Regions from separate parts of the Homo sapiens genome. Here region 2 is linked to region 1. A link means that fine-mapping ties the variant in region 1 to the expression of a gene that starts in the linked region. Tissue or cell type: whole blood. Region 1 holds a variant in brackets; the other region holds the start of a gene. All regions are shown on one strand. Distances are between the middles of the regions. Region 1 overlaps SUGP2 (SURP and G-patch domain containing 2). Region 2 holds the start of ARMC6 (armadillo repeat containing 6).

Region 1 (9,658 bases):
TCAGCCTCCTGAATAGCTGGGATTGCAGGCTCCCGCCACCACGCCTGGCTAGTTTTTGTACTTTTAGTAGAGACGGGGTTTCGCCATGCTGGCCAGGCTGGTCTCGAACTCCTAACCTCGGGTGATCCGCCCATCTCGGCCTCCCAAAGTGATGGGATTACAGGCATGAGCCACTGCGCCTGGCCAGACTTTAATTATTTCCCAGTGAATTAGCTGCAGATAAACTAGGAGGGCACAGTATCACAAATATTTTGTTGAAGCAAAATATATTTCTGTAGTCATGGAAAATAATCCATGTATTGGATCTTTTGTTATAAATGTGGGGACTCTTAGGTTTGAATAGACTTTCCAAAAGCAAGGCACCGCTCAGTGAACCCTTCATTATGGCCCAAGCTGCCTACCCTGAGCGTGTCCCGTCTCTGCTCACTCCAGGGGTCATACATGTTCATTCTTGAGAGGAGCTGGGGCTCAGCAGCTGCCATGCAGAGCCTAAGACACCTTCTGTCATCAGAGAACTGTTAGCCAAAATAGACTGCAAGATCTTCAGTCTCTAAGTAATTTAGGAAAAGCACATGTATGTGTATGTGTCTCTTTCTTTTGTCTTCTAGTCCATGAACCAGTTCGAATTGCCTATGACAGGCCTCGGGGTCGTCCCATGTCCAAAAAGAAGGTGAGCGTAATCATTGGTAGTCCTCACTCAAAGTATAGTTGGTTAGAATTTGTTGGAGTTCCAAAGGATGCTGCAGCTTGTGATTAAGCTGTGCTAACATTTCAAACTGAGGTATTAATGTGTAAAACACAACAGAGACTTTTCTCTTGGGAGGGCTTTTGAAAACTGTTTTGCCTTTGTCCAAAGCATAGACTAGTGATTCATCTGTGTAATGGATAGTTGAGATCCCTGTAATGGATGCAGTGGGATTTGAGAGATAAACGAGATAATGTCTTGGCCCTTAAGAAGTTCAAGCTAGGCCAGGTGTGGTGGCTCACGCCTGTAATCCCAGCACTTTGGGAGGCAGAGGGCGGGTGGATCACAAGGTCAGGAGATCGAGACCATCCTGGCTAACACGATGAAACCCCGTCTCTACTAAAAATACAAAAAATTAGCCGGGCATGGTGGCAGGCGCCTGTAGTCCCAGCCACTCAGGAGGCTGAGGCAGGAGAATGGCATGAATCTGGGAGGCAGAGCTTGCAGTGAGCCGAGATCGCGCCACTGCACTCCAGCCTGGGCGACAGAGTGAGACTCCGTCTCAAAAAAAAAAAAAAAAGAAGTTCAAGCTAAGGCCGATTGGGTGTCTTACACTTGTGATCCCAGCAGTTTAGGAGGCCAAAGTGGGCAGATCGCTTGAGTCCAAGAGTTTAAGACCAGCCTGGGCAATAGGCAAAACCCTGTCTCTGCAAAAAATACAAAAATTAGTTGGGCATGGTGGTGCATGCCTGTAGTCCCAGCTACTCTGGAGGCTGAGGTGGAAGGATCATTTGGGCCTGAGAGGTCGTGGCTGCAGTGAGCTGATTGCACCACTGCACCCCAGCTTGGGCGACAGACTGAGAGCCTGTCTCAAAAAAAAAAAAAAAGTTCAAGTTATCCAGGTGCACTGATTCACGCCTGTAATCCCAGTGCTTTGGGAGGCCAAGACAGGGGGATCACTTGAGCCCAGGAGTTTGAGGCCAGCCTGGGCAACATAGTGAGACCTATGTCTCCTCCTGGTCTCCTTAAAAAATAAAACATAAAAACTTACAAGCTTAGTAGACTGGAAGGGTGGTGAAGAGAGTTCACTAATCTGCTAGTAAGCAGAGCGTGGTGTGTGCGGTCAGCACCTCCTACGTGCCAGGTCCCGACTGTCCACCTGGAGGCAGCAGCAAGCAGGGCCAACAGTGAAAGAGAAATGGATGAGGCAGTCCTGGGGATGCTGTGGGCAAAGAGAAGCAGGTCAAAGAGAGGGAGAATAAGGTGGGGTCGAGGGGATGCCGCTGAATTGGGAAAGCCAAGGGAGGTCTCTCTTGCAGATGACGTTGGCACAAGCCTGGAGGAGCTGAGGAGAAACAGTGTAGAGATCTGAGAAGGGCACAGCCTCGGTAGAGAGGCTGGGGCAGCAAGAGGCCTTTGTGGCAGCAGAGGAATCCGGGGGGTGGTCACACAGGACCTCAACAGATGTTAACGCTGTGGCCCTTTCTCAGGGAAGGGAGGGTACCTCTGGGACCTGTGGTGGATGTGGCCACTAGGGTGGAGAGCAGCCTGTGGGCGGGAACCAGGAGGAGGCTCAAACTTAAGACAGTTGGACCAGGGCATGAGGAGCAATGAGAAGGGGAGAAGATGGAGTGGGTGACACCTGCTTGTGGGCTGGGTGTGCAAAAGCCAGGAGTCCAGATGACCCCAGGGTTGTCAGCTTGGGCAGAAGAGGGACAGAACTGCCATTCACTGACCTGGAGCCAGGTTATGGAAAGGGGGCAGGTACACTCCAGATGGCCTGGGGGACACAGTGCTGGGGGCAAGCAGGGTCACCTGGGACACATGTGGAGAGACTTCACCAGTCCTTCATGGTCAGGGAGGAGGGCGGGGAGCCAGGCGAGATCGCTCTGCTGGTGTCAGGCAGTGCCATGTTGCTTCCAACCCCTTCCGAGTGACCTAGGTCAGTCTGACCCCAATTATGGCAGGAAGGAGGGACCTTCCCGAGTCCAGAGCTCATAGTCCTTACTGATGTGCCAGGTTTTAGGCTGAGCTGGCATCTGGTGCCCCTTGGTGTGGCCTGGATAAGGGCACGGCCAGATGAGGGCACAGCAGGACCTTGGTGTCAGGCACAGCTGTACTCTAGCTCAGCCCTGCCACCGAGTAGTTTTGTAACCTTGGCGTGTAACCCCTGAGCCACGGATTTGTCTGTAAAATGGGATGGCCACACTTACCCAGCAGGTAGGAGGTACAGTGAGGATTAAACTGAACGCGGTTCCTGGTGGGTGTCCTGCACATGCTGCTGTCTCCTTGGGGCTCTGCACCTGTCCTCCTGTCTGCCAGTGACTGTGGGTGGAAGGGAGGCCGTGGTGGCTGCAGCTTTCCTCTGCAAACCTCCACCTCGCCCACAGGGCTTGGCTTTCCTCCAGCTGTCCAGGAAACCACCATCATGATTGTTAAACACAGATTTGAACATTCACGAAGAAACTTCCAGGCTGAGCCAAACCCTCTTCCTCCCACTGCACCTCCAAGCAGCCTTCCTGAAAGGGAAAAGAGTACAGACCTGCCCTCTGGGGACCCCTGTGCCCTGCCATGACCAGCCTTTCCCCTTCCTTCCCTACCCGTCATCCCAGGGCCCAGGTCGTGCACAGCTCCCAGAAGGGCCTGACGGATGCCCCGTTTCTCATCTCAGCCGGTGGGTTCTGTCACCTCTTTTCTCCAGGCCACTTTCTCATGGCAAGGGGCCCCCCAGTGTAGCAGGTCCTGTCTGGTGTCCCCTGGTTTGCAGGGGTGTCTCTTCACTGTTTGTGCCCCTCTTCCTGTCCCAGCCCATAGCATAGCTCCTCCCTTCATACCTCCCCTCCTTAACTGCCCTGCAGAGACACTTCTGCCCACACCGCCTCACCAAGACCACCTCATGCCATTATGGAGGGGCCGCCTGCATCCAGTAACTCACGCACACACACAAGATACACACATGTGCACGCATATGCACACACACATGCATACACACACGCACACACACATGCATACACACACACAGCTACTTTATATAATACCCTCGGAGATGCCTCTGAAGAGAACAAAGGGAATTTCCCTCCGCCTTTGAAGGTCCAAGTCTAAGCCTGTTGAAATGAACTGACAATAAGAAGATTAACAGGATAAAAAAAGGTGTGCGGTGGCTTACACCTGTAATCCCGGGACTTTGGAAGGCCAAGGCAGGGGGATCACTTGAGCCCGGGAGTTCAAGACTGCAGTGAGCCATGATGGAGCCACTGCACTCCAGCCTGGGTGACAGAGCAAGATCCTGTCTTGAAACAAAAAAGTTATACATATTTATTCACGTGCATAAGCACAGGAGCCATATAAAACATTATGAAAACTCAAAGAAGGGCCAGGTGGTTGAAGCTGAAATACCTCTTTGTAGGGGAGAGGGCAGATGGGAGGCTGTAGGTAACTTTAGAGGGGAAGCAGATGATTTTAGGAGAGATGAATGGAGGCAGGCATCATCTTGTGAATGATCCTCATTGAGAATTGAATGGGACTAGAGAACAGCCAGTGGTCTGGGCTCTAGGTGTGGTGTTTAATGTTCCATCTCTTCTTGTGTGATAGGAGTTTTCAACTCTGGTTAATGACATTTCAGGGAAGGGATCCAAGGCCCTTGTGTTCTTCTTTGGCAAGTCCAGTTTCTAGGTAGATAGGGAACTTGAAGAAAACAGCTTCCTCCTGTGCTTTGGGAGGGACCTTGAGGCTGCTACTTTAGTCCCACCTGTCAAAGTGCTATAATTCGGGGTATCGCTTTCTTTCTTTCTTTCTTTTTTTTTTTTTTTTTTTTTGAGAC[G/A]GAGTCTCCCTTTGTCGCCAAGGCTGGAGTGCAATGGCATGATCTCAACTCACTGCAACCTCTGCCTCCCAGGTTCAAGGGATTCTCCTGCCTCAGCCTCCAGAGTAGCTGGGATTACAGGGGCGTGCCACCACACCTGGCTAATTTTTGTATTTTTAGTAGAGATGGGGATTCACCATGTTGGTCAGGCTGGTCTCAAACTCCTGACATCGTGATCCACGCACCTTGGCCTCCCAAAGTGCTGGGACTACAGGCGTGAGCCACCGCGCCCAGCCTTAGGGTATCCGTTTCTGACCCCCTACATCTTGCTGCATGTTGAGTTCTCAGCACCTCTCCAGGTTGTTTTGTCCCTTTCTAGGGTGAGAACACTGAGGCCCCAGGAGCTCCAGAGGCCCAGGCCTTCCTTATGGGAGCACTTGCTCTCTCCTCCCTCCCTCCCTCCTGACCTGAGGCCCTGCTCTCTCCCTTCTCCCTTTCCTCTCCCAGCCCCTGGCTCCCCCAGGCTCAGCCTTTTGTGCCTTGTCTCCAAGCTCCTTTGTCTCTGGAGTGCCTCCCACATGCACCCCTAACGTTAGGGAAGCTGATTCCTGGGCACCTCAATGCAGATGGCAAGGGGGGGATTTGTCTTTTGGTTGAATTATACCTCGTGAGGCCTGCATGACATCATGGGGCAGGTTGCTAAGCTGATGAGGGCTGACTGCCCAAAGACCTGAGCTCACAGCACTCAGCATGCCCTTCTCACCCTGCTTCCCATGCCCAGGGTCATCTAACCCTCTCCCAGCCACTCCCACCTGTCCCCTGCTCAGACCCCCAGCACCAGCCCCCGTGATCCTCCTCAGCACCTTCCTCCCTCCCTCTCAAGAGCACATGAACCCTCACAGCCTCCCCAGGTCGTTCAGTAAATGCCTTAAATAAATACATCAGCCAGGCGCAGTGGCTCATGCCTGTAATCCCAGCACTTTGTGAGGCTGAGGCGGGCAGATCAGCTGAGGTCAGGAGTTTGATCAAGACCAGCATGGTTAACATGGCGAAACCCCGTCTCTACTAAAAATACAAAAATAGGTGGGCGTGGTGGCACACGCCTGTAATCTCAGCTACTCGGGAGGCTGAAGCAGGAGAATCGCTTGAACCCAGGAGGCGGAGGTTACAATGAGTTGAGATTGCATCACTGCACTCCAGCCTGGGCAACAGAGCAAGACTCCGTCTTAAAAAAAAAAAAACATCAAAAGCTGGGTGCAGTGGCACATACCTATAGTTCCAGTTAATGGGGAGACTGAGGTGGGAGGATCACTTAAAGCCGGGAATCCGAGACCAGCCTGGGCAACATAGCAAGACTCTATATTTAAAAAAAACACACACAAGTTTTGTATTTTGTTTCTTTTTTTAGACAGTCTCATTGTGTTGCCCAGGCTGGAATGCAGTGGCACGGTCTCCGCTCACTGCAACCTCTGCCTCCCAGGTTCAGGCGATTCTCATGCCTCCGCCTCACAAGTAGCTGGGATTACAGGTGCCTGCCACCATGCCTGGCTAATTTTTGTATTTTAGTAGAGACGGGGTTTTGCCACGTTGGCCAGGCTGGTCTGGAACTCCTGACCTCCAGTGATCCACCCACCTCGGCCTCCCAAACTGCTGAGATTACAGGCATGAGCCACCACGCCCAGCCCACCCACACAAGTTGACTCGTGAAGAGCCAAGGAATACATGGCAAGGTCTTGGACTGCCCAGCTGGGCTCTGTCACACAGCAGTGTGTCATGAATATTCATGAGTGAATAGAAATTCCTTCTGCTACAGCCCTGCAGGCTCCTCCTCCAGAGGCCCCAGGGCCCTGTCTGTCTCCAGATCTCCATCTAGTGGCCCAGAGATTGCTGCACTTCCCCACCACCCACAGGAGCAATCAACAGCTGTACTAGCTCTCAGTGAGGTCTGCTCTGTGCTAGACACAGACCCCAATGTCCAAGTAGAACTCAGTCCTGAGGACAGACAGACAATGCAGCCAGGGAGTGAATGAAGCACTCGGGGAGGGGTATGTTGGGGTGGTTCAGGGAGGGTGCTGCCAGCCAGTTCTCACCCACTGTCTGGCCCCCATCCTGCCTGCAGGCCTGTGCCCTGGTGCCCCCCACTCTTCCCTGGGCTGCGCCCTGTGGTCATCACAGGGCCACCCTTCTTTATCCAGGGTTCCGCTGAGGGCCTTCCTACTGACTCCTTGACCCCGGGACTGGCCATTCCCTTACCCAGTTTTCCTCACAGTCTTGGCACCAGGGTTATAGTGGTAGCTGAGAGGCACGACTGACCTCAGGCCAGTGACCTCTGACTTAGAAGTTCCATCCCACCCAGGGATGTTGCAGAGAACTGGGGAAGTGACTGGAGCTTGAGCCTGAGCATCTGGGGAGTCAGGAGGGCATTTGGGGGTGAGGGGCTCCAGGCATAGCCTAGGACAGACCCTTGATCCAGGCATCTCCCTGTGGCCCACATGCCTGGACTCTCCTCTCTCCTCAGAAACCCAAGGACTTGGACTTCGCCCAGCAGAAGCTGACCGATAAGAACCTGGGCTTCCAGATGCTGCAGAAGATGGGCTGGAAGGAGGGCCATGGCCTGGGCTCCCTCGGAAAGGGCATCAGGGAGCCGGTCAGCGTGTACGCAGCAGGCAGCCTGGGGTGGGAGTGGGTGGGGCCTCAGTCCTTCCACCTGCAGCCTGCCGCTTGGCTCCTTCACAGCCAAGATGGCTTACAGCTGGCAGTTGATTTTTGTTTTTTAAACAGAAGGCATCTTCAGATGAGAAGCTGATCATTTACATGTGCAGGTGTTTACAGGGCTCCTTTCTGTCCTGGTGTAGATTTTTTAACCAGCTTGTTGGCCCTGGTCATTTTGGCCACATTTGTGACCATCATAAAAGCTAAGTGGTATTTCTGTGTAGTTTCCGTCTGGAACTGCTTTCCCATTCCCGGGAACCCATAGCCGGGCCAGCCAGGGTCCCGAACACAGGCCCAAAGTTTATTAAACCCCGATCATAACCTCCAGCAGGCATTTCATTTAATACTGAGCTTAGTTCCTGCTGGGTAAGGCATTCCGAGGTAACCAGGGCCCTCTGGGCACCCCCTCAAAAGCCAGCTCTTCGAGGGTGAGTACTCCTTGTTTCTACTGTGAGTCGCGTCTTGATTTTCCCTTTCTTTGATGTCTCAGTGTGTGTCCCAAACACCTGCATCTCATGGACTGTTTGTGCCCATGCCCAGTTCCTGGCATGCCAGGCCCTGGGCTCAGGTGCACAACTGACTCTCTTTTTCACTCCCTAGGGGAACCCCCTCGGAAGGGGAAGGGTTGGGTGCTGACGGGCAGGAGCACAAAGAAGACACATTCGATGTGTTCCGACAGAGGATGATGCAGATGTACAGACACAAGCGGGCCAACAAATAGGTATGTTCACAGGCCAGTGTGTAAGGCCGTCTGCCCTCGCTGGCGTGCTGGTATGCAGAGAAATTTCCCCCAACAAAGTTGATGTTCCCTGCTCCCCCAAAAATGCCACACACAAAAAAAATCACAAAATTCTGTGAGGGAAACAAAAGGGTCTATGGATGTGGATATGCCCCATTCTTACCTTCCAGGTTTGCTGAAGGAGCAAACCTCACACTGGCCAAGGGCAGATGCGCATGGCCTGCCTGGTGCCCCGGCTGTGAGCCCCTCAAGGCCTCCAGGCCAGCCTCCGTGGATGTGCGTGTGGAAATAGGCCACGCCTGTCTCTTCTCTTGCTCAAGTTTTCTCTCACAGATGACAGCCACCTACCACATAACATGACCAGCAAACGGACTGTTCCTAGTCCAGAGGGCCTTGCCATCATGCAAGTGGAAGGGCGACTGTGACAGCCACTGCCACAGAGGATGGCAGTTGGCTGTGTCCCTTTGTGAGGGTCTTCAAATCCTTTTCCTTCTGCAGGGCCTTGGGCCTGTAAATATCCTCATCTTTCTATTCTTTTTTTTTTTTAGTTGCCCCCTCACCTAATTTCCACCTCAGTTTTGAACAAAATCGTTCTCTTCCTGAATAGATCAAAACCACTGATGTGAAAGATAAGCCTTGAAGCAGCAATTGCCCTTAAAACATCATCCCTGCCCTGGATCGGCCTGGAGCCAGTGCCCAAGTACGGTTTGGTGTGTACATGAAAACAAACGTCTCTGCAGTCTCTGGGGCGGAGGTTTCGCTGGCTTTTCTTTCTCTCAAAGAAAAAAACATGCACCATTTTCAATGTGCTTTTGCCTCTCCTCTCTGTTCACATGCTTTTAGCAGCAAGTCCCCTCCAAATCTGTCTTGGTTCCCCTTCAGAAGGTGGCGCTGCCCCCGAAAGGCACCTCAGCCTGTGAGTGCTGAGGAACCAGCTCCTCTGGCTGATTTTCCAGTTGGACTGGCCATTGCTCTCCAGAAGTGCTCTGTTAGCAAACGTGATGTGGAAACGATCACAGATGGTGTTTTCTCGTTGTTCGCCAGAATTTATACGGGGGAGACAAATTCCCGGTAATTACCAAGTCTGCACTCGGGTACCAAAGCTCTGAAGCTCTCTGAACAGTTGCCATACTTGAGTTGATGAATGTGTTATTCATGGTGTCTCATCTCATCAATGCATCTTGAGAGACTTAATGAAATTTTAGCAACAGTATAGAATAGCTCTATCGGGTGGGGAGTAATCATTAAACAGATGAAATCGGCCCCAGATTTACATGTCTCTTTAGAATCCACAGTGTAAGCAAACTACAGTTACAAAGGGATGGGGGTTGTAAACCCTCTGAGACTCTGCACTTTTCGCACGTATGGCATCGTCAAGTGCTGTCTTATTACAGCCTTTGTAAGGAGAGGCAGGCTCCTCCTGGGGTGGGCTCTGCAGCTGCTCTATTTCCAGGCATGTGATCGCCCCCGCTCTCCAGATTCCCCAGCACTCTGCTGCGTGTAACTCCACTCAATTCTCCACTCATCCTTCCTTGTGAAGCAGGATCGTTGAAGTTTTAAGTATGGGCAAAAATCTGGAAAACTTAGGATCCCTCTGACACCCCAGGATTAGGGGACACAGCAGTGGCTAGGGCATCAGCCACAGAACTGAGCGGGAAATGCCACTTGTATTGGCTGTAAAGAAATCCTGGCTTTGGGCCAGGCACAGTGGCTCAAGCCTGTA
Region 2 (9,658 bases), 35 kb before region 1:
TAAAAAATACCAAAATTAGCCAGGTGTGGGAGCATGCACCTGTAGTTACAGCTATTTGGGAGGCTGAGGTGGGAGCCCAGGGAGGTCAAGGCTGCAGTGAGCTGAGATCATATCCCTGAACTCCAGCCTGGGTGACAAAGTAAGACCTTGTCTCAAAAAAAAAAAAAAAGGAAAAAGAAACAGGTCACTCTGGCCCATGCTTCTCTTTTCAGGCAGTGGCATGGGATATACACATTCCATCTGTGTTCCTGCAGATGCCCACCATGGACTGCACACTGCCTGACGGGAGAAGGACTGGCTCGCAGCCAGCCTGCAGAACCCAGTTCCCATGCCCTCCACTTCAATGCCCTTTTCTTTTTTTTTTGAGACAGAGTCTCGCTCTGTCGCCCAGGTTGGAATGCAGTGGCACGATCTTGGCTCACCACAACCTCTGCCTCCTGGGTTCAAGCGATTCTTGTGCCTCAGCCTCCAAGTAGCTGAGACTACAGGCCCACGCCACCACGCCCAGCTAATTTTCGTATTTTTAGTAGAGACAGGGTTTCACCATGTTGGCCAGGCTAGTCTCGAACTCCTGACCTCAGGTGACCCACCTGCCTCGGCCTCCCATCATGCTGGGATTACAGGCATGAGCCACCACGCCCAGCCAGATACACTTTTCTTCAATTCCCTCATGTGTCAAACAGAGATAAACACGAATCTACTTCATAGGGCAGTAGTGAAAAATTCAGCCAACTCCTATACCTTCCTCAGAACAGGATATGGACAGGCTCAATAAATTAGCTATTTGTTCCTTTCCTTTGTTGCTTAAGAGGCAATTCAGCAAGTTTATGCAGGAGTCCCATCTCACTCTTTTGCAGATAGGCCCCTCTCCTTTCTGCCCCAGAAGAAAAGGGAGCTCTTTAAGGGCTGCTATGGATTTCCAAGGTTAAAGGTGAAGGAAGAGTAATATAAAGAGTTTCTCAGTAGGGAGTAAGGAGTAGGGGACTCCACTCCCACCACCCCGGCCAGGCCAGGAAATTCCTTGTGGCCCTCAAGATCTTTACCTGAAAACAATTTTGTTGAATGTCACCCTGGCAATGTAAATTGACAGGTGATCTTCACAAGTGCAGGACAGAAAGTCATCACCTGAGACAAATGCATATCCAGTTGCTCTCTCTGCCCTAACGTTTATGTAAAAATGCAGATTTGGCCTGGCTCCGTGGCTCATGCCTGTAATCCCAGCATTTTGGGAGGCTGACACCGGTGGATCACCTGAGGTCAGGAATTCGAGACCAGCCTGACCAACATGGCGAAACCCCGTCTCTACTAAAAATATAAAAATTAACTGGGCGTGGTAGTGGGCGCCTGTAATCCTAGCTACTCAGGAGGCTGAGGCAAGAGAATTGCTTGAACCCGGGAGGTGGAGGTTGCAGTGAGCCAAGATTGCGCCATTGCACTCCAGCCTGGGCGACAGAGCGAGACTCTATCTCAAAAAATAAAACAAAAAACAAGAAACAAAACCTCAGATTCATGAGTCGGACTGAGGCATAAATGACTATTCCTCTACCTGCCCTGTACCCCATATAAATCGTGTATTCTGTGAAAGGCTGACCAAAGACTCAAAAGAAAGCAATCATTTGTCTCTACCTGTGACCATCTTACACATATTCATTTATATCTCACGTCTCCCTAAAATGTATAAAAGCAAGCTGTGCCCCAACCACCTTGGGTACATGTTGTCAGGACCTCCTGAGGCTGTGTCACAGACATGTCCTTAACCTTGGCAAAATAAGCTTTCTAACTGATTGACACCTGTCTCAAATACTTCGGATTCTCAGTCCTCTGTGGAGCTTCTGCCAGCCCTTCCAGGTGGCTGCCTTTCCTGGCCACTCAGAGAGCCCACACTCTCTGGCTTCACTCCCCAACCCACAACCCCTCCCTTCCACCCACCCCTGAGCTGACTGAGTTGGGAAGGTCTGGCTCTGTGACCACCCCTGACCTGAGTCCTCCAAGGTCCCCTAGATCTGGTACAGGGCTGAGTTGGAGGAGGAAAGTACAGATTTGGAACACATAAGATGGTGCCTGGAGATGGCCAAGTAAGAATTACCTGGAGAACAGCCTAGGCTAAAAGGGGGAAGCAGCATTACCAGTCCCTATTATCCATCAGGGCATGCTGAGGGTAAAACAGAAGATGAGTAAGGCCCCTAACTGGCAGCCAGTTTCCTTCTCTCAGCCAGGAATCTGCTCATCAAGAAAACTGTGCTGTCCAGGTGCGGTGGCTCAGGCCTATAATCCCAGCGCTTTGGGAGTCTGAGGCGGGTAGATCACTTGAGGTCAGGAGTTTGAGAACAGCCTGGCCAACATAGCAAAATCCTGTCTCTACTGAAAATACAAAAAATTAGCCAGGGCCGGGCACGGTGGCTCACGCCTGTAATCCCAGCACTTTGGGAGGCCGAAGCGGGCGGATCATGAGGTCAGGAGATCAAGACCATCCTGGCTAACACGGTGAAACCCCGTCTCTACTAAAAAAATACAAAAAAACTAGCCGGGCGTGGTGGCGGGTGCCTGTATTTCCAGCTACTCGGGAGGCTGAGGCAGGAGAATGGCCTGAACCCAGGAGACGGAGCTTGCAGTGAGCTGAGATTGCGCCACTGCACTCCAGCCTGGGTGACAGAACGAGACTCCGTCTCAAAAAAAAAAAAAAAGGCCAGGCAAGATAGTGCACACCGGTAATCCCAGCTACTCAGGAGGCTGAGGCAGGAGATCGCTTGAACTCCTTTTGACTCCGTTTCAAAAAAAAAAAAAATACAAAATTTAGCCAGGTGCGGTGTTGCGCACCTGTAGTCCCAGCTACTCGGGAGGCTGAGGCAGGGGAAGCCCTTGAACCCGGGAGGTGGAGGTTGCAGTGAGTCAAGATCATGCCACTACACTCTAGCCTGGGCGACAGAGAAAGACTCCGTCTCAAAAGAAAATTAAACGTGTGCCATGACATGCTGGGGACTCTAAAAGACTCCATCCACATGTCCCTCTACCAGCCACACCCACTCTGGTTCAAACACCAGCCTCCCCTAAGGGCGGCGTCACCTGCCACTCCCAGAGCCTAGACTCCACCTCACTCACGTGCTCAAAGCCCGGTAGTGGCTTCCCAACCCTCTCAGAACAAAACCCAGCCTCCTTATCCGCACCTTCTCTATCTAAGCCTTCCAAGTTCCTCTTCCCCGCCTTTCTCATCCTTCCCAGCACTCAAGAGACAGCCTTCAAAACCACTTCTAGATAAAGAGCAGCCCTGCTTTCCCGTCCCATCACTCTGTTATTATTTGCACACCATTACCTGTATCTAGAGCAACATCGTTCACTCATTTATTTGTACCCTGTAGCCTCCTTGTCCCCACTGCCTAGGACGGGGCCCGACACGCAGCAGGCACTCAGTGCACAGGTGCTGAATGAATAAATAAAATGAATGAAAATAAAGCGAATGCCAGGGAAGCCGAGGATTTTGTCCCCAGGCGGCTTCTGTAAAATTCTTTCATTTTTTTTTTCCCCCCAAACCACGTACCCGAGGGTCGCGCCAGCCCGACCCTGCGGCACCCCCACTCCCCACTCCGCGCGGGACAGGCCTCGGCAGCCGCAGCGTCTCACCCGGTCTTCGCGGCCACGTGGGGAAAGGTGGGGCGCGCGGTTGTCACCCAGGGAGCCGCCTCTAGCCCCTTCCGGCCGCCGTACGCGCGCAGGCGCTGTGGCGCCCCTAGGCTTGGCCTCCCAGAGACTCGCGGACGCTCACGATAACCAAGGACGACCGCGAACCAAGGTAAAGCCAACGAGGCCACCTCGTGCGCGACGGAGGCGTCTTTGCCGCCCCTTCCGGGACGCTCACGGTGGTCGCCGCCCCCAGCAGGGAAATGTTTTGCCTCCAGAGCGTCCGCCCAGAAGAAGCGGACAGCGCGCTTGCGCAAGAGAGCCGGGCCGCGGCGGCCCGCGCCTGCGCACCAGGACTCGGCGGCGGCTTGCGCCTGCGCGGCGCGGCGCTGCGGAGACCGTTGGTTCATTTGCATGTCCCCGCCTCGCGCGGCGGCGGCGGCGGGTGAGGAGCCTGAGGCGGCGGCGGGGGTGGCTCCGCGCGCGGTGGTCTCGGGGTGAGGCCCGGGCCCTGGCGTCGTCGGTGGGTGGCTCCCGGGGTGGGAAGCTCGGGCTCGGCCTTGGGGGCCCGCCCCGGGCTCCGTGATGGCGTCGCAGGCTCGGCCCTCTGGCTGCGGCGGCGGCCGCGTCCCCGCCGGGTTGGCCTGGGTGGCCGGCTGCGGCCTCCCGGGCCCGGCGCCCCCATTTCCTCGCCCGCAGAGGCCGGGAGACGGCGGGCCGCGTCCACAAAGGCTCATTGGTTCAGTCGTTCATTCATTCCTCCCGAACTCGGAGCGGCCCCCGCTCGGGAGGAGATAACGGCGCCCAGCGCTGCATCGGGCCCTTGCCCTCTTTAGAACCGGTTCAGCCCCCACACCAGCCCCTTTACTGGCTGCCCATTCCATAGGTGGGGAAACGGAAGCACAGAAAGCTTAGAATCGTGTGATTTGAACCTGGGTCACCTGACCCGGGAACCCTGCCCTTTGCCAGCAGAGAACAAGGGGGCGCCCCGGGAAAAGGGCTGAAGGATGGGACTGGGGGAGGCGGGTGGGGGAGGCGGTGATCGTGATGGGAAATGGACCCTACGGGTTGTCTCTTGAAGTTGGAGGTTTTGCGAAGCGGGATATCTTGATGGTTAAGGATGCAGCCCCTGGACCCCAAAATGTTGCTTAATCTTTTTACTCATTCTTCGGGGCTTTGGATGCACGAATACCCTTTTTGCCAGGTTCAAATCTGGGCTGTCTGGTCTTGAATGGGTCGTTGAGTCTGTCTCCCTTTGCCTCCTCACCCTAATGTCATTCATAACAGGACCCGCCTCTTCAGTGGGTGGTTGGGAGATCGCGCAAGGACCCAGCGCAGAATGAACTGTCACTAGTTCATTGTCATTGGTTGGGGGTCCCGCCACTCACTGTCAAGAGGCTTCTTTTAGAAGGGAAGGAAGTTCTCAGAGCCTCTGTGCCCTGCTGAGTCTGTGAATGGGAAAAGAGTGATCCTGGGCCAGGCGCAGTGGCTCACGGCCTGGAATCCCAGCACTTTGGGAGGCCGAAGCGGGCGAATCACTTGAGGTCAGGAATTCAAGACCAGCCTGGCCAACATGGTGAAACTCCATCTCTACCTAAAATATAAAAATTAGTCGGATGCGGTGGCGGACTCCTGTAATCCCAGCTACTCAGGAGGCTGAGGCAGGAGAATTGCTTGAGTCCAGGAGGCGGAGGTTGCAGTTAGCCGAGATCATGCCACTGCACTCCAGCCTGGGCAACAGGGAGAGTCTCAAAAAAAGGAAGAAAAAAAAAAAAAAGATTGATCTCTTCTTTCCTAACCACGATTTGCGAGGGTTGTGGTCCCACCCTTCCTACTCTGTTATGCTCAGTTATGTGTGTTGGTTGACACCTTCCTCCAGCAGATAGAACTGCTTTCACAGAGCTGCTTTTAATGGATTCCAAGGAGATGGGCCCAGAGAAGGTTTGTCTTGCTCCTTTTCAGCCAGCACACACCTGTGAACTTCGTGAGGGCAGAGACCCCCTTAAAAGAGTCCAGACAAGGTGGGCAGATTGCTTGAGGTCAGGAGTTCGAGACCAGCCTGGCCAACCTAGCAAAACCCTGTCTCTACTTAAAAAAAAAAAAAAAAAAGATAAATAAAAAGGGTCCAGCTTGCCTCTGAAGTACCATGCGAGGATTATGGATTACTGCCTCCTTACTTCGAGGATTAAGTGAAATAGAGCAGGTTCTGTGAGCACGCATTTTTTTTTTCTTTGAGACAGTCTCGCTCTGTCCCCCAGTCTGGAGGGCAGTGGCATGATCTCGGCTCACTGCAACCTCTGTCTCCCTGGTTCAAGCAATTCCCATGCCTCAGCCTCCTGAGTATTTGGGATTACAGGCACGTGCCACCATGCCTGGTGAAATTTTTTTTTTTTTTTTTTTGAGACGGAGTCTCACTCTGTTACCCATGCTGGAGTGCAGTGGCATGATCTCGGCCCACTGCAACCTCCGCCTCCTGGGTTCAAGCAATTCTCTTGCCACAGCCTCCCAAGTAGCTGGGATTAAAGGCAGGCACCACCATGCCCGGCTAATTTTTGTATTTTTAGTAGAGACAGGGTTTTGCCATGTTGGCCAGGCTGGTCTCCAACTCCTGACTTTAAATGATCCGCTCACCTCAGCCTCCCAAAGTCCTGGGATTACAGGTGTGAGCCACCACACCCAGCCTGAATTTTTTGTATTTTAGTTTCATCATGTTGCCTAGGCTGGTCTCGAACTCCTGAGCTCAGGTGATCCGCCCACCTCGACCTCCCAAAGTGCCAGGATTACAGGTATGAGCCACCGCGCCCAGCTCCAAGTTGTTGCTCTTAGTGTATTTTTTTCTCTCTCACCATAGGGCAAAATAACATGGCAGCCAGACGAATTACACAGGAGACTTTTGATGCTGTATTACAAGAAAAAGCCAAACGATATCACATGGATGCCAGTGGTGAGGCTGTAAGCGAAACTCTTCAGTTTAAAGCTCAAGGTAAAATAAAGTGTTGTTGTTGTAGTTGTTGTTTTGGTAGGGGTGTATCTTAGGGCCAAGGCAGGAAGATTACAATACCTTGGGCAAATAATACCAGTCCTCTGATCCTTAGTTTCCTTATTTAGGAGGAGGTAAAGGTTTTTATTTTGGTTTGGTTTCTTTTTTGTGATAGGGTCTTACTCTCTCCCCCAGGCTGAAGTGCAGTGGCGCAGTTTTAGCTCACTGCACCCTTGAACTCCTAGGCTCAAGCCATCCTTCCATCTCTGCCTCCCAGAGTGCTGGGATTATAGGCATGAGCCACTGCACTTGGTCAGGGGATAATGTTTTGATCTGTCAGTCATCATTATGTAGTTATCTGGAGCTTCTCACTGGATATCCTCCCCGACCCACCTCAAGACAGTTTTGTTTATTGTTTGTTTGTTTGTTTGTTTGTTTTGAGACGGAGTTTCACTCTTGTCTCCCAGGCTGGAGGGCAATGGAGGGATCTTGGCTCACTGCAACCTCCGCCTCTTGGCTCACTGCAACCTCCGCCTCCTGGGTTCAAGCGATTCTCCTGCCTCAGCCTCCTGAGTAGCTGGGATTACGGGCATGCACCACCACGCCCAGCTAATTTTTCTATTTGTAGTAGAGATGAGGTTTTACCATGTTGGCCAGGCTGGTCTCGAACTCCCGACCTCAGGTGATCCACTTGCCTTGGCCTCCCAAGATGCTGGGATTACAGGCATGAGCCACCGAGCCCAGCCCAGTTTTGTTTTTTGGTGTTTTTTATGTTTTTGTTTTTTTTGTTTTTTGTTTTTTTTAATAGATATGGAGTCTTGCTATGTTTTCAGGCTGGTCTGCAACTCCTGGGCTCAAGTGATCCTCCCACCTCTGCCTTCAGCATGTTGCGATTACAGGCGTGAGCCACTGCTCCCAGCCCCAAGACAGGTTCTTGGATCCATTTCCTGGCTCCATCCCTGTCACCGCTGCCCAGGTTTAAGCTCTACTAGTTCTTTTTTTTTTTTATTTGAGACAGAGTCTTGTACTGTCGCCCAGGCTGGAGTGCAGTGACGTGATTTTGGCTCACTGCGGCCTGTGCCTCCTGGATTCAAGCGATTCTCCTGCCTCAGCCTCCCGAGTAGCTGAGATTACAGGTGCCTGCCACCATGCCCGGCTAATTTTTTTGTATTTATTTTAGTAAAGATGGGGTTTCACTATGTTGGTCAGGCTGGTTTTGAACTCCTGACCTTGTGATCTGCCCGCCTCGGCCTCCCAGAGTGCTGGGAGGATCACAAGGTCAGGAGATCGAGACCATCCTGTGAATGGTGAAACCCCGTCTTTACTAAAAATCAAAAAAAAAAAAAAATTAGCCAGGTGTGGTTGTGGGTGCCTGTGGTCCCAGCTACTTGGGAGGCTGAGGCGGGATAATGCCGTGAACCCGGGAGGTGGAGCCTGCAGTGAGCCAAGATTGCGCTACTGCACTCCAGCCTGGGCGACAGAGCGAGACTCCATCTCAAAAAAAAAAAAAGAAAAAAAATGGCCGGGCGCAGTGGCTCAAGCCTGTAATCCTAGCACTTTGGGAGGCCGAGGCGGGCGGATCACAAGGTCAGGAGATCGAGACCATCCTGGCTAACACGGTGAAACCCTGTCTCTACTAAAAATATTAGCCGGGCGTGGTGGCGGGCGCCTGTAGTCCCAGCTACTCAGGAGGCTGAGGCAGGAGAATGGCGTGAACCCAGGAGGCGGAGGTTGCAGCGAGCCAAGGTTGTGCCACTGCACTCCAGCCTGGGTGACAGAGCAAGACTCCGTCTCAAAAAAAAAAAAATTTATCTGGGCATGGTGGCATGCGCCTATGGCCCTGGCTACTTGGGAGGCTGAGGCAGGAAGTTCGCTTGTGCCCAGGAAGTCGAGGCTGCAGTAAGCTGTGTTTGTGCCATTATACTCCAGCCTGGGCCAAAGAGTGAGACCCTGTCTCAAAAAAAGACGGCCAGGTGCAGTGGCTTACACATGTAATCTCAGCACTTTGGGAGGCCAAGGTGGGCAGATCACCTGAGGTCAGGAGTTTGAGACCAGTCTGGCCAACATGGTGAAACCCCGTGTCTACTAAAAATACAAAAATGTGGCAGGCCCCTATAATCCCAGCTACCCAGGAGGCTGAGACAGAAGAATAGCTTGAACCCAGGAGGTGGAGGTTGCAGTGAGCCGAGATCGCACCACTGCGCTCCAGCGTGGGTGACAGAACGAGACTCCGTCTCAAAAAAAAAAGACAGATTAGGGGGCCGTGGGTGGGAGAGGACTAGAAACCTAGCAGTATGCTAGGTGATTCTGGAACATTTCTGTGTTGCAAAGCAGTCTATCGTTTAGCCTTTCTCTGTTTCTCTGCTCCACTCTGAACTTTTCATCTCCTCATAAAGGGTATGAGAAAATTCTCTTGAGTAGAATCCAGCCATCACTCTCTGTCACTAATGTTCCCTCCCTAATCATGCCATCAATACCAATCATCAATACCTGGGTTATCACAGTGGATTTCTTGCAGGAACATCCACGTCTGTGCTCATCTCCTTTAATCTGTTCCCTGTGCAGCAGCCAGTGAGATCATCCCTCTGCTTAGAACTCTTCACTAGCCTTCTGTCTCTCCCAGAGTAAATTCCAGAGTACCACTGAGGGCCCGACTTGGATCTGGTACTCCTTCTCCATTTGTGTCTCTTATATTAGTGGTTCCCTAACTTTGTAGCACGTTAGCGTCACCTGGGGGCCTTTTAAAAACCCTGATGCCCAGGTCATCCCCTTATTTAATTAAGTAAGAATGTCTGGGGAGGTGGTCCCTGGGGCTCCAGTAGCAGAGTTTGGGAGCTGCCTTCCTACCACTTGGCCTTTCATTCCCTGTGTTCCCTTCTGTCTACATTGGCCCCCTACTGGTCCCACCTCAGGGTCTTGTCCTCATTCCCCCTCTGCCTGGAAGGCTTCCCTTTGTAACTGTACGGTCTGGCTCCTCATGCCAGGCCACTGCTGCTAGATAAAGTGTCAGAGCTATGCAGCGTGACACGGTGGCTCACGCCTGTAATCCCAGCACTTTGGGAG

What was found. PIP is the estimated chance that this variant, and not a neighbour inherited with it, causes the effect.
Region 2: ARMC6 starts here. The variant in region 1 is fine-mapped to the expression of ARMC6 in whole blood (TOPMed, PIP 0.97).

Annotation. Positions count from the first base shown.
Region 1 is chr19:18,992,625-19,002,282 of GRCh38, reverse strand. It overlaps SUGP2 (SURP and G-patch domain containing 2), which reads left to right. Exons shown (of 11, transcript NM_001017392.5): 8 at 609-670; 9 at 7,003-7,139; 10 at 7,797-7,917; 11 at 8,543-9,658. The coding sequence ends at 7,917. Among named protein-coding and RNA genes, the nearest start is that of SUGP2, 36 kb to the left of the region's middle. The variant G/A (reference allele first, on the strand shown) is at 4,506.
Region 2 is chr19:19,027,891-19,037,548 of GRCh38, reverse strand. It overlaps ARMC6 (armadillo repeat containing 6), which reads right to left and starts at 3,946. Exons shown (of 9, transcript NM_001199196.2): 1 at 3,619-3,946; 2 at 3,311-3,418. The coding sequence starts at 3,339. SUGP2 (SURP and G-patch domain containing 2) reads left to right here and starts at 4,032. Exons shown (of 11, transcript NM_001017392.5): 1 at 4,032-4,112; 2 at 6,467-6,598. The coding sequence starts at 6,478. RefSeq lists silencers at 3,943-4,372, 4,793-4,872 and an enhancer at 4,799-5,300.